4 linked regions of the Homo sapiens genome follow. The protein of the gene in region 1 purifies or fractionates together with the protein of each later gene. This does not show direct contact. Each region holds a gene or a part of one and is shown on either strand. Other genes may lie near its edges.

Region 1 (3,500 bases):
GAATCTGGAAGGCAAGATTCATTCTGAAACGGCCATAACTGAAGTACGGCAATTCTATTTTTGTCACATTTTAAAGCACAAAAATTTCTGCTGTCAAAAATGTATCAGATGGGGAAATGCAGTGAATGAACTTTACATGATGAAAGAGAATATCACTCCACAAGAAATACTCTGCCACAGCAAGTCTTTGATAATAAACATCATGACAACAGCAAACAAAGACTAATGAGATGACATGGGAACCGACACTAAACAAACATGGCAGGGAAGCAAGAAGTATCTTCTCAAACATCTCCATCTCCTTTCAGCATTAAAAGCAGCATGGATTTCAGGAAAAGTAAGACAAACTAGGCACACACGAAAAGACTCTTGCTTCCTCTGCTGGGTACTGAAGGAAACTATAAAAGAAAGCTCATCTCACTTAGTCTCTGCATGAAGACATCCTGGAAATACCCTCAAAACATGAGTCACTTCCCTTTGCCAATTTCTGACAAAAAGGTGAAGATAACTATAATAGGAAGATGTCTTGTGCAAGTATGCGTTAAACAGCTAAAACCTGATGGATTGAGGGCTGGCCCCATGACAGGCAGAAGTATGACTGAAACCCTAATACCTTCTCATTACTGCAGAAATACTCTGGGGAACATATATGATCTATTGACAGTGGTGCGGTGGGGATAGAGGGATGTACAATAGCACAAAAGCATTGGATGCTTAGAGAAAATATGAGATATTTGGCCAGGGAGTTTGTCCTGCTGTCAGACTTCTAACAAGAAAAAGTTAATTCTGTCACTTCAGCAACCAACCCCAGTGTAAAAACCACAGGCTTGTATATTAATGTTTATGTATGTATGTGTGTATATATATGTGTGTGTGTGTGTATATATATATATTCTTTGAGACAGGGTCTTGCTCTGTTGCCCAGGCTGGAGTGCAGTGGTGCCCGATTATGGCTCACTGCAGTCTCAACCTGTTGGGCTCAAGTGATCCTTCCACTTCGGCCTCCCAAGTAGCTGGGACCACAAGTGCACACCACCATTGCCCAACTAGTTTTTGTATTTTTTATAGAGACGGGGTTTTGCCATGTTGTCTAGGCTAGTTTCAAACCTCTGAGCTCAAGCAATCCACCCACCTCAGCCTCCCAAAGTGCTGGGATTACAGGCATGAGCCACTGCGCCTGGCCAATATTTTGCTTTTTAAATGGGTTCCACTTATAAACCATATGCTACAAAAGAAAAAACCTTAAGCTTCTCTATGCTTGTCCAAAGCAGTCTTTCCCATCATTTTATTCCCAAGGAATAAGAGTAGAAGACACTGAAGAATATGCTTGGAAGTTAACAGAGGCAGTGTGGAGTGACAGAAAGAGGACAGATTCTGGAGTCAAAGACTTCTGAATCTTAGCTCTGCCACTTACTAGTTGGAAGAGAAAATAAGAGCACCAAATCCAGTCCACATTACTCATACATTAATATTTACTTACCTTGTCCCCTTGAGAAAGTAACTTATTCTGAGCTTCCAACTCTTTGCCTGTAAAACTGAGGTGCTGCCACCTAACTCACAAGATTATTTATGAAAATTAAAGTGCCTGGCATATAGTATGCACTCAGTTCCTTCTCTTTTCTTACGATCTCTCCTCCTAACATTGTTTCCAACTGAACCACTGCACTTTCTTGTCCTTCAAACTCCAGTAACATGAAGAAACAACATGGAGATTTTGGAGCAGCAGCTACTGTTGTATATAGCAGTACAGCCACGGTACAACATATGTTCATTAAGTAGGCGTTACAGACCTATGATTCCCTCCCAGTTTTCTCTGGGGTTTAAATCTAGTCTTCTACATACCCAGCCACATATTTACATGCTCATTATTAAAATTCCTTACTCAGTCAACAGATATCCATACAGGGAGAGAGAACATGTCAGTGGAATTATTAGACTAGGAATCAGGAAACAAACGATCCACTTGCTTCATTATCAATTCTTGTAGAGCTGGACTCTGAATCACCAGGTGGAAAGTCTAGACCAGCACTGTCCAATAGATCTTTTTACGATGATAGAAATGTTCTATATCTGTAATGTCCTGTATGGTATCCACTAGTCACCTGTGGCCACTGAGCACTTGGAATGTGGCTATTGTGACTGAGGAACTGAGTTTTAAATTTTACTTAATTTTAATTAACTTAATATTGAAATAGCCATGGGTGGTTAGTGGCTGCCATATTAGATACTGTGGATGTGGAACACTTCCATGACCAATTAACATTAGTCAGACATTAATATTTATTTACCTTGCCCCCGTTCCATGGACACTGGTCCACTTCCTGGCATTCCAACCTGAGCCTGCATTCCTCCTAGAAGATAAAGGGCAGACAAGAAAAAACACCAATTAGAACAGCGGAAAAGAAAAATTAGAACAGTGGCTGAGTTTACAAATTTCCTCATTCTGCTCCACAAGCAGAAACCTACAAAGGAAGATATTCAACAATGCAATGAGAGAGAAGATGGGGTTTGTTAGTATATTTACAATTTGTACTTTATGTTTCAGTGACAGAATAGTGAGTTCAATAAGAATAATTCATTTCATTGGTTACCAAACTCTTGGCAGGAAGCTCTTCTATAATACAGGAAAACAATGTCACTTACCCATGGACCTCCTGTCATGAAAGATAATTTAAATACAAGTATAACTCTATTAGGATAAAGTAGATACATAACAATCCTAAAGTAGATACAAAAAATTCCTGAGTTTGCAGAAATTTCTTCAAAAAATCTCTTCTTCCATTCCTCATCAACTTAGCTCTGCAGACTGGATTCTCTACAGAACAGAACAATTTAGAATTAAATCATTCTCCATGAGTAGTGTTGTACTCAACCTACCCTAGATTAGATAAATTAACAAAAACCAAGTTTGTTACATAAAAAAACTTTAAATATTGGTAATACATCATGTGTTCATACAGATGTTTCATATGGGGAATCATTATTTCACTCAATCTTCTTAGTTACAATTGTTGAACAAGGAACAGTTACAAGTATATGAGCAATACTCTTATTAATTGCCGATCTATACATTTTCAATAAATGTACATAGCTTTTAAATTTCTCTTTTTCCCTTTTGTTGTTTGTTCTGATTATGTTTGTTAAAATACAATTTTATGTCAGTTTAATATGCTATAACAAATGTGACCTTGTATTTTTTTGTCTGTTTTCTTCATGAGCTTTTGAACCTAATCTGACAGTTCATTCATATTTAGCAGAGTAACAACTACATTAGTTTTTATTCCTTCCATCTTACTCTACATTTATTATTACTTATTTTACACTGTCTCTTACTTTTTTCCTCTTCTCTATTTTTGCTGGCTTGATTTTGTTTCCACTCATTCCATTTTCCCCCTTGTTAACTTGGAAGTTTTACTATGCTCTTTCACTTTACTGTCCCTTTCCCTGTTCTTATAATTAGACATACAGGATTTAACGTAAGAAATCTACTATTTCCTCCA
Region 2 (3,500 bases), on another chromosome or scaffold:
GTTGGCCAGGCTGGTCTCAAACTCCTGACCTCAGGTGATCTAACCACCTCAGCCTCCCAAAGTGCTGGGATTACAGGTGTGAGCCACCTGGCCCGGCCACACCCTTCTTTTTTTAAAGACAGGATTTTGCTCTGTCACCAAGACTGGAGTGCAGTGATGTGATTATAGCTCACTGTAGCTTTGAATTCCTGGGCTCAAGCGAACCTCCCGCCTCAGCCTCCTCAGTAGCTGGGATGATAGGGGCACATCACCATGCGCAGACTTACTTCTACCCCTATGCCAAACACAGCAAAGAACTGAAGTGAGGCCAAGGACAAAGGTAGCTACTTGGACCTGCCCAGGCCAGTCTTCTGACTCTAATAAACCACAGTTTACCAGACTGCAGTACACCACCAAGTTTGTAACCAAAGCCCCAGATGGAAATTAAGAGTCTCTTTCACTGGGCCTGTCTGTGCTCCTATTTTTCTCCAAAACCTCACAGAAGGCATCAGGGAGGGCAGGACTGGCAGATTCAGAAGACTGTGTCAGCTGGGCGTGGTAGCTCATGCATGTAATCCCAGCACCCTGGGAGGCTGAGGCGGACAGATCATGTGACGCCAGGAGTTCCAGACCAGCCTGGCCAACATGGTGAAACCCGTCTCTACTAAAAATACAAAAATTAGCCGGGCATGGTGGCAGGCGCCTGTAAACCCAGCTACTCAGGAGGCAGAGGTTGCAGTGAGCCAAGATCGTGCCACTGCACTCCAGCCTGGGAGACAGAATGAGACTCCACCTCAAAAATAAATAAACAGGCCTGGCACGGTGGCGCACGCCTGTAATCCCAGCCTGTAATCCCAGCACTTTGGGAGGCCGAGGCAGGCGGATCACCTGAGGTCGGGAATTCCAGACCAGCAACATGGAGAAACCCCATCTCTACTAAAAATACAAAATTAGCCAGGCGCGGTGGCGCATGCCTGTAATCCCAGCTACTCGGGAGGCTGAGGCAGGAGAATCACTTGAACCCGGGAGCCAGAGTTTGCGGTGAGCTGAGATCGCCCCAAGCCAAGTTCGCGCCACTGCATTCCAGCCTGGGCAACAAGGGCAAAACTCCATCTCAAATAAATAAATAAATAAAAATAAGGAGCCTGTGTCCTTGCCATTTTTGTCCTCTCAACACCACCATCCATAGCTAGAGTTACTATTTGTTGAGGGCTTATTATAAACTAAGCAGTTCACACAAACGATGTCTGAGGCTCATAAGACACCTACGAAGTATGTATTATTATTTCCATTTTACAAATTAAGAAACTGAAACTCAAAGAGGTTAAGTAACTTGTAACTGCCTCACAAGCAGTGTCTTAAACTCCCAAATCTCCAACTGCCTACTGACCATTTCCCTTAAGAGAATGTTGTGGAGATTAGATGCAAGTGTACATAATGTGCTTAGCACACAATTGATGCATAGTAGTTCCTCAATAAAAATGTTAATCATTAGGCGGAGCACAGTGGCTTACGCCTGTAATCCCAGCAGTTTGCGTGGCTGAGGTGGGCAGATCACTTGAGGCCAGGAGTTCAAGACCAGCATGGCCAACATGGAGAAATCCTGTCTCTACTAAAAATACAAAAAATTAGGCCAGGCACAGTAGTTCACACCTGTAATCCCAGCACTTTGAGAGGCCGAGGTAGGCGGATCACCTGAGGTCAGAAGTTCGAGACCAGCCTGGCGAACATGGTGAAACCTGGTCTCTACTAAAAATACAAAAATTAGCCGGGTGTGGTGGCACGCGCCTGCAGTCCCAGCTACTCGGGAGGCTGAGGCGGGAGAATTGCTTGCTGGGATTACAGGCGCCTGCCACCACACCCAGCTAATTTTTGTATTTTTAGTAGAGATGGGGTTTCGCCATGTTGGCCAGGCTGGTCTCGAACTCCTGACCTTAGGTGATCCTCCCACCTCAGTCTCCCAAAGTGCTGGGATTACAGGCGTAAGCCACTGTGCCCAGTCGAGAGAAATACTTTTTCTAAAGGCCTCCTCAGTAAACTTCTACTTATATCTCAGTGGCCAGAATTCTACCACAAAAAAACTCCCTCTCAAAAAAAAAAAAAAAAAAAGGAAAAAGAAAAGGCATTTTTCTCAGAATAAAAGGAAAAAAAATAGAGGAGGGGACTCAAACTCAGCTGACACTAACCTTTTTTTATGAGATGGAGTTTCGCTCTTGTTGCCCAGGCTGGAATGCAATGGCGCGATGTCGGCTCAAGGCAGCCTCCGCCTCCCGGGTTCAAGCGATTCTCCTGCCTCAGCCTCCCGAGTAGCTGGGATTACAGGCATGTGCCACCACGCCCCGCTAATTTTGTATTTTTAGTAGAGACGGGGTTTCTCCATGTTGGTCAGGCTGATCTCGAACTCCCGACCTCACATGATCCACCCGCCCCAGCCTACCAAAGTGCTGGGATTACAGGCGTGAGCCACTGGACCTGGCCGACACTAACCTTTTATACTCTGCCCTACAAGCTGCCCCTTCTTCTTTTCTGAAGATATGGGGCAGCAGTATCGTAACTATGAAGAGCCACATACCAATAATGGCAGAGCAGGAAAACAGCAAAGCCCTGAACTGTCCAGGTCTGGACTTCTTGTTACATGAGAAAAACTAAATTCCTATTGTTTAAGCCATTTGTAGTTTGGTTGCTGAATGCAATCCCTAACAAACACAGGCTCCACCCCATTCTAAAAGATAACCTGGGCTGCAAAGGGATATTTTGGATCACCTAAGCCATGCCTACATAACAAGAGTACAGCCTCAGAACCACAGTATGACCAAGGAACACAGCACCTCAACAGTGAACTTTTTTCAAGGGACCAAAACCTACAGGGAAGCAACACAAAAAGCACAAGCTTGTTTATCTAACACTCTCCAAAGGACAGGGTGTTCTAACCAAACAACCTTAGTACCCTCAGTGTAAGTTAATAAACTGCTAACTGGTTTATCAACCAGGTTCTTGTGGAGTTGATCCAATGGTATGTTGTTCTTTAAGCACCAACTTTCACTATAATTACTTAATTGTTTACTTTCTCCTCTAGACTATAGGCTCTGTGAGAGCAGGGACCATATCTACCCCATTCACTACTCAGAATGCAGCCCTAAGCATAGTGCCTAGTACAAAGTTAGCTGTGAATAAATATTTGGCAAAGAATTCACTGAATCAATAGATGACACACACAAAAAAATCCCCCAGTGACTAACTCTGGTGAAGTGATAAAATCCAAAGGGTGGGACTGGGAGCAGTGGCTCACGCCCGTAATCCCAGCATTTGGGGAGGTTGAGGTGCACGGATCACCTGAGGTCAGGAGTTCGAGACCAGCCTGGCCAACATGGTGAAACCCTGTCTCTACTAAAAATACAAAAATTAGCTGGGCATGGGGGCACGCGCCTGTAATCTCAGTTGCTTGGGTGGCTAAGGTGTGAGAATTGCTGGAACCCAGGAGGTAGACGTCACAGTGAGCTGAGATTGTGCCACTGCACTCA
Region 3 (4,218 bases), on another chromosome or scaffold:
TTGTTAAACAGGCCGGGCATGGTGGCTCACACCTGTAATCCCAGCACTTTGGGAGGCCGAAGCAGGTGGATCACAAGGTCAGGAGATAAAGACCATCCTGGCCAACCTGGTGAAACCCTGTCTTTACTAAAAATACAAAAATTGGCTGGGTGTGGTGGTGTCCACCTGTAGTCCCAGCTACTTGGGAGGCTGAGGCGGGAGAATCACTCGAACCCAGGAGGCGGAGGTTGCAGTGAGCCGAGATCACGCCACTGCACTCCAGCCTGGCGACAGAGTGAGACTCTGTCTAAAAAAAAAAAAAAAAGATCACACACAAAAGAATTGTTAAATAAGTAATGGGGCTTCTAAACATGAGGCACTTTGCATCTAGTAAAAAACATGGAAAAATGTACTCAGCATAAAGTTGGTTAAAACTATAATAGAAAAATATAGTGGCAACAATTTTATATGTATTTTTAAAATGTGTTTTTTTATGCCTCAAAGTACATTAGGACAGTAACAGTATTGCTTCAGGTGATCTGGTGATCTCCTTTTTTTTTTTCCTGATGCAGTCTTGCTCTTGCTCTGTTGCCTGTTGCCCAGACTGGTCTTGAACTCCTGGGCTCAAGCAGCCCTCCTTCCTCAGCCTCCCAAAGTACTGGGATTACAGACGTGAGCCACTGTGCCTGGTTTGATTTTCTTTTTTGTACTTTTTTAGAGTTTCTGAAAGTGTACAAGGTGTATCACTGCAACAGGTTTAAAATGCTTTTACATTGAATGCTAGAACGTTCTGAGGGTCTAAGATGTGGACTTAGAAAGCTATCCCTCTTGCTCTCTGTGGCAGGCGCGGGTTTAAGTGGACGCCAGGTGCACCGGACACAGGCTGTGTTTAACCACACCGAGGACTATGTGTTGCTGCCCGACGAGAGGACGATCAGTCTTTGCTGCTGGGACTCGAGGACAGCCGAGCGGAGAAACCTGCTGTCGTTGGGGCACAACAATATTGTACGCTGCATAGTGCACTCCCCCACCAACCCCGGGTTCATGACGTGCAGCGATGACTTCAGAGCGCGGTTTTGGTACCGGAGATCGACCACTGACTGAGCCACCCTCTCCGTAGGGTTCTTTCTCGAGGACTCTACCCTCCTCCCCCACGTCCTGTCTCAGCTGCAGTCGTAAGTCCGTGCACCATCCTTGACGTTTTGCTGCCACCTCTGTCCACATTCTTCTTGGATTTGTATAAAAGAATCTTTTTTTACCTTGATGTAGAATCATGGTGGAAAAAGTTGGAAACACAGATCTGTGCAGTTCTACATTCACTGATTATTACAGTGTGATTTTCATCGGTTTTGTAAGTACAGGACTTGCCGTTTCTTTTGATCTCTTGATTGAAGGAGGATAGGGCATTAAAGTGCTTTTGACATGAGGAATTTTCATTTGGTTCTTCTGTCAACTTTCTTGCTTATTCTGCTGAACCCTCTGTGTATTTCCCTTCCAGGTATATTTGAACAGATAAGCAGGCATGCAGCTCTGAGACTCCTGAGTTTTATGCCATTATCAAAAGCATTTTCAAGAATCCCTCAATTCTATCCTGAAATGATGTTATTCTGATAATAAAGCTCAGATCTGCAACTTTATTGTTATATATTTTTCACTTCTGTAAAATTAATGGCCAGTTTTTCCTGACAATTTATAGGAACAGTATCTTTCAACATACTCCCTACATTATCCTTCAATATCTGCAATACTTGTCTTTAGTAACTGTATTTCTGGTAAGATTATGATTTCATGAGAAACAATTGAAAATATATCCGATCTAATTAAATTAGGTCAGCCTGCTATTGCTCTCAGGTGTTGCCTGTCTTCACGAATGATTAGTATCGATTGACCTCTTTCTTAGGTGGTTTTAAGTCTTCAGTTCTCGTCAGCATGAACTAACTTCTCATCATGGAGGCACATAGTAACTGCATTCTCAGAAGATTTATGCAGTTAACCAATTGATACAAGTTTTCTTTTTCTTGAATTTTTTTTTTTTTAATTGAGGCACAGTCTTGCTCTGTCACCCAGGTTGGAGTGCAGTGGCGTGATCTCAGCTCACTGCAAGCTCCGCCTCCTGGTTTCACACCATTTTCCTGCCTCAGCCTCCCAAGTAGCTGGGACTACAGGCACCCACCACCACGCCCGGCTAATTTTTTTTTTTTTTTTTTTTTTTTTTGTATTTTTAGTAGAGCCAGGGTTTCACCATGTTAGCCAGGATGGTCTCTATCTCCTGACCTCGTGATCCGCCTGCCTCAGCCTCCCAAAGTTTTGGGATTACAGGCGTGAGCCACCGCGCCCAGCCTTCCTGAAGCTTTTTAGAACATGACAGTACTTCTCTGGATTCAGCACTAGCAGAGTCAGAGAACTCTGAACTCCCCTTGTACAAACATAAACTTTGCTTTATATTTATCCCAAAAAACAAATACCTTATGATCTGCATAGGAGTACCTAGAAATATAATCTGGGATCATTTGATAAAAATAGTAAATAGATTGAAGTAAAAGTCATTGCTTTATATTATAGGAAGTTTTGTTTTGTTTTGTTTTGTTTGTTTTGTTTTTGAGACGGAGTTTCGCTCTTGTCCCCCAGGCTTTAGTGCAATGGCGCGATCTCGGCTCACCGCAGCCTCCGCCACCTGGGTTCAAACGATTCTCCTGCCTCAGGCTCCCGAGTAACTAGGATTACAGGCGTGCGCCACCATGCCCGGCTAATTTTGTATTTTTTTTAGTAGAGACGGGGTTTCTCCATGTTGGTCAGGCTGGTCTCGAACTCCCAACCTCAGGTAATCCGCCCGCCTCAGCCTCCCAAAGTGCTAGGATTACAGGCGTGAGCCACCACGCGCGGCCCCATCATACGAAGTTACTGAAGTTATTGCGTAAACATTCTGTTTTAGTCATCCTTGAGGATCGTTTTAACTCCTTGATCTGTAAAACTGTCTTAAGCATCTTAACATGTTACATCACAGGGTTTTAGCTCAGATTTCCAAAGAGCCATATTTTTTGATGCATATTTCCAGTTGAATTCCAGTGTGAATTTCCAGTTGTACTTTGCATTCTGATTCTTTGATATTTGAACTTGGCCATCTGTGGGTGCTACTCTCGTAAGACTAAAAGGCACCTACTAAATACGAACAAGGATAACCAGTTCTACCAAAAACATTACCAACCAAACCTCCCCTGTTCTTTTTTCAGACTTTCCTTTTGCTTTCAACCTCTTAAACTGTAAAGGAGAGATTTAATGTTTCCCTATTATTCTGCTTTGACTCACATACTAAAATGACCACATGGCACTCCATTGAATCTTTTCAGTTGTTCACGAATTAAAATAATGCCCATGTTTTACAGTTTTTCGAGTAGTCTCAGCAATGGATCTGTAGTTTCAGGACCTGTTTTTAAAAGATCAAGATACTTTTATGTGTTTCAGAAGTAGCTGTTTTTTCATTTTTTGTGGGTTTGTTTTTTTTGTGTTTGTTTGGTTGGTTGGTTTTTGGTTTTTTTGCTTTTTAAAGGTCACAGTGTTGTGAGCCTGGTGTAAATGCCAGGAATATTATATGGACTTAGTATCTGCATCTCGTTAATTGTACCACACAACACTCTGCCATTCAAATAATGAATATCTGGTCAGGATACGAACTTATACCCTCTGTGTGTTTTTTTTTTTTAAGATACGTGATTTCTGAAATAAACTTTATATACAATGATAAGCTAGTTTATTTTTTTTGGAACTTACTTTGAACATTTCCCACATTTGAACATCTGTTCTCAAACAGCAGTTATGACTTTGGTACTGTTCACCCTTTCTTTAGTGCTTTGTTCCAGAAGTCAGGTTTTTATAGCTGGATCACCTTTAGCTCTTTATCTTTGCTCCTCTGCTCTCTATGAATTTTTCTTTTTTTGAAACGAATTCTCACCCTGCCGCCCAGGCTGGAGTGCAATGGCGCGATCTCGGTTCACCGCAACCTCCGCCTCCCAGGTTCAAGCGATTCTCCTGCCTTAGCCCCCTGAGTAGCTGAGATTACAGGCGCGTGCCACCATGCCTGGCTAATTTTTTCTATCTTTAGGAGAGACAGGGTTTCGCCATGTTGGCCAGGCTGGTCTTGAACTCCTGACCTTCTGATCTGCCCACCTTGGCCTCCCAAAGTGCTGGGATTACAGACGTGAGCCACCGTGCCCGGCCGCTCTCTGTGAAGTTAAAGAACTT
Region 4 (2,838 bases), on another chromosome or scaffold:
TATCTTAGGTAAAAGTATTCAATAGAATAGCTGAAATAAATGTGAAGCTTTTCTTAATAGGCAGTAATTAGATAAAATGAACAACATTCTCAATCCTCCTCATGCCACATAATTCTCTCCCTGCAAGTTTGTCTCAAAAAAAAAAAAAAAAAAAAAATCACATATAAGAAAAACCTTAAGAATTTGAATTTGGTTTTTCCTTATAACTGATAAAGAATTTACACAATCTCTTTAGACATTTATGTTTTGATATTTAAATATGAAATTTCAACTATACCATGACCTATGGGTGAAGTTGGAAATTATAGTAACCTTATAACTTCGTCATCATCTACATAATTTGATACTTTATAAAAGTATAATTCCACTACTTGTATTTTAGTTATAGTCTGATATTAAATAGTTAATGTAAAATTAAAAAATCAACCACGGTAGCAAATGTTTGTCCTGAGAGGGTTTTTAAAGTCCTTTTTCTTTTTTAGGGGGTGTGGGGGGGTCATGTAGTAACAAGTGGCAATGCCACATGAGGCTGAGACCACAATGTGTTTCTAAAATAATTTACAATATTCCTAACAAGCTTATTAAATAGACCTGAAGAGAAATGAAGTTCCAAAAATATTTAAAACAAGGGCAGTGGCAGCACCCTTGGAATAAAGTTTCCCACAGAGTTACGTCTGATAGTTTTGACTGTACAGTATGTGCTTCTTTTTGTTTTTAACATAACAATTGTCAGAGAAAAAAGAAAACACCTATGATACATTGGATATTAAAGTCAACATAACCTCAGAAAATGAGGTAGGAAGGCCTCACGAGTCCTTTATATATTCTCCACTTGAAATTATCATTATCAAAAATTTTAGTAGGATCATGGAATCCTTAACAATTTCACAAAAAAAGCACATACATTTTTGGTTCTCTTTGACTATATGGAGAGAGAAAGAGAGATGGATTCATTCATTCAAGACTCAGTGCAGTCTCAACCTCCCCAGGCTCAAGTGATCCTCCCACCTCAGCCTCCCAAATAGCTGGGACTACAGCCACCATGCCCAGCTAATTTTTCTATTTTTTGTAGAGACAGGGTTTTACCATGTTCCCCAGGCTGGTCTTGAACTCCTGAGTTCAAGCAGTATGCCTGCCTTGGCCTCCCAAAGTGCTGGGATCACAGGTGTGAGCCACGGCGTCCAGCCACGAGGAGAGATTTCAAACTCTCCAAACTTCTATTTTGCTCTTTGGAATCCCATTTTGACTTCAAGAGCTAAAATGAAATGGAGTGAATAATGAACGAAAAGCACCAAAAAATAGAGCTGTGTGTGCATGTGCGTATAGTGGTGGGGAGGAAAAGGGAAAAGCCAAGAAGATACCCTCACTTCCAGCAAAGCCCTGGGTTTTTAAATTTTGGTAATTTTTGGTATTTTCCCATAAACACAAAGTGCTTCAAGTGAGACAAAAACCAAAGAGGAGGTAAAAAAATAAACATTTGCTTGGAACTTGCCCACGTGGGAAGATTTGAATGTTCCTTCTCTAGCCGCTCCCCCTGCCCTTTTTTTTTTTTTTTTTTGGAGACAGAGTTGCGCTCTGTCGCCCAAGATGGAGTACAGTGGCGTGATCTTGGCTCACTGCAACTTCCGCATCCCGGGTTCAAGCGATTCTACTGCCTCAGCCTCCCAAGTAGCTGGGATTATAGGCACCCGTCACCACACCTGACTAATTTTTCGTAATTTTAGTAGAGATGAGGTTTCACCATGTTGGCCAGGCTGGTCTGGAACTCCTGACCTCAGATGATCCACCCGCCTCGGCCTCCCAAAGTGCTGGGATTACAGGTGTGAGCCACCACGCCTGACCTTAGTTCCCATTATTGAATCCAAATTCATTCTACATTCATTCTATGGTTACCAGAAAAAAAAAAAAAAAAAACCTGCAATTAACCTCTCAATCACTGAATTACTACCCACTGTTTATACCCTTTAAGTGATAATCAGTCCATCAATATTTTAAAGGACAATAATCTTCTGATAAAACTCTAGACTCTTACATTAATCAAAGAAAAGTACAGAAGAAGATAAGATTTACTCTTTCTCCCCCGACCTTTACTGGACACAGTATAGAATAGAAATCAATCTATTTCTCAGCATGCCACTGTCCTAAATAACAGCTGCCATTCTTAGAGAAGATAAACTGAACATATCACTCCTAAGCAAAGTGAATGTACACTAGGGAACCAAAGCAATAATGCAGTGTAGAAGCAACAATGGATTCTCTAAGACTTGGTTCCAATCCCAACTCTGCCTTTAAACAGCTGTGTGGATCTCAAGCAAATCCCTTTCCTTGTACAGGGTCATTCATTCAATACTAAAATAAGTGGGTTGAATTAGATGAGCTCTCTAGTCCCTTTCAGCACTAACATTAAAAGACTCTAAGTTATAAATGTCAACTGCTTTTTACCTCCTATTAAAAATGAGTGGGCTTTTTTGCAGAAATTGGTAAGCTGAATCTTAGGCTGAGTATGGTGGCTCACGACTGTAATCCCAGCACTTTGGGAGGCTGAGGCAGCCGGGTTACTTGATGTCAGGAGTTCGAGACCAGCCTGGTCAGCATGATGAAACCTCATCTCTATTAAAAATACAAAAATTAGCCTGGCATGGTGGCACGCGCCTGTAGTCCTAACTACTCTGGAGGCTGAGGCAGGAGAATCTCTCGAACCCAGGAGGCGGAGGTTGCAGTGAGCTGAGATTGAGCCATAGCACTCCAGCCTGGGTGACAAAGCAAGATGCTATCTCAAAAAAAAAAAAAAAGAAAAAAAAGAAATCGATAAGCAGAATCTAAACTCACATGAAAATG

Evidence for each region. Proteins that work in one complex are often made in the same cells at the same time.
Region 2: the proteins of CSTF2 (region 1) and TUT1 purify together in Homo sapiens (co-immunoprecipitation; 2 studies listed by IntAct, with this or other methods). This does not show direct contact.
Region 3: the proteins of CSTF2 (region 1) and CSTF1 purify together in Homo sapiens (affinity purification with mass spectrometry; 2 studies listed by BioGRID, with this or other methods). This does not show direct contact.
Region 4: the proteins of CSTF2 (region 1) and CPSF2 purify together in Homo sapiens (affinity purification with western blotting; 3 studies listed by BioGRID and IntAct, with this or other methods). This does not show direct contact.

Annotation. Positions count from the first base shown.
Region 1 is NC_000023.11:100,826,891-100,830,390, reverse strand, and holds part of CSTF2 (cleavage stimulation factor subunit 2), read right to left. Parts: intron 2,352-3,500; coding exon 2,289-2,351; intron 1-2,288. UniProt on the Homo sapiens protein: One of the multiple factors required for polyadenylation and 3'-end cleavage of mammalian pre-mRNAs. This subunit is directly involved in the binding to pre-mRNAs.
Region 2 is NC_000011.10:62,585,024-62,588,523, forward strand, and holds part of TUT1 (speckle targeted PIP5K1A-regulated poly(A) polymerase), read right to left. Parts: intron 1-3,500. UniProt on the Homo sapiens protein: Poly(A) polymerase that creates the 3'-poly(A) tail of specific pre-mRNAs. Localizes to nuclear speckles together with PIP5K1A and mediates polyadenylation of a select set of mRNAs, such as HMOX1.
Region 3 is NC_000020.11:56,402,645-56,406,862, forward strand, and holds the end of CSTF1 (cleavage stimulation factor subunit 1), read left to right. Parts: intron 1-823; coding exon 824-1,083; 3' UTR 1,084-3,718; downstream 3,719-4,218. UniProt on the Homo sapiens protein: One of the multiple factors required for polyadenylation and 3'-end cleavage of mammalian pre-mRNAs. May be responsible for the interaction of CSTF with other factors to form a stable complex on the pre-mRNA.
Region 4 is NC_000014.9:92,166,969-92,169,806, reverse strand, and holds part of CPSF2 (cleavage and polyadenylation specificity factor subunit 2), read right to left. Parts: 3' UTR 1-2,838. UniProt on the Homo sapiens protein: Component of the cleavage and polyadenylation specificity factor (CPSF) complex that play a key role in pre-mRNA 3'-end formation, recognizing the AAUAAA signal sequence and interacting with poly(A) polymerase and other factors to bring about cleavage and poly(A) addition.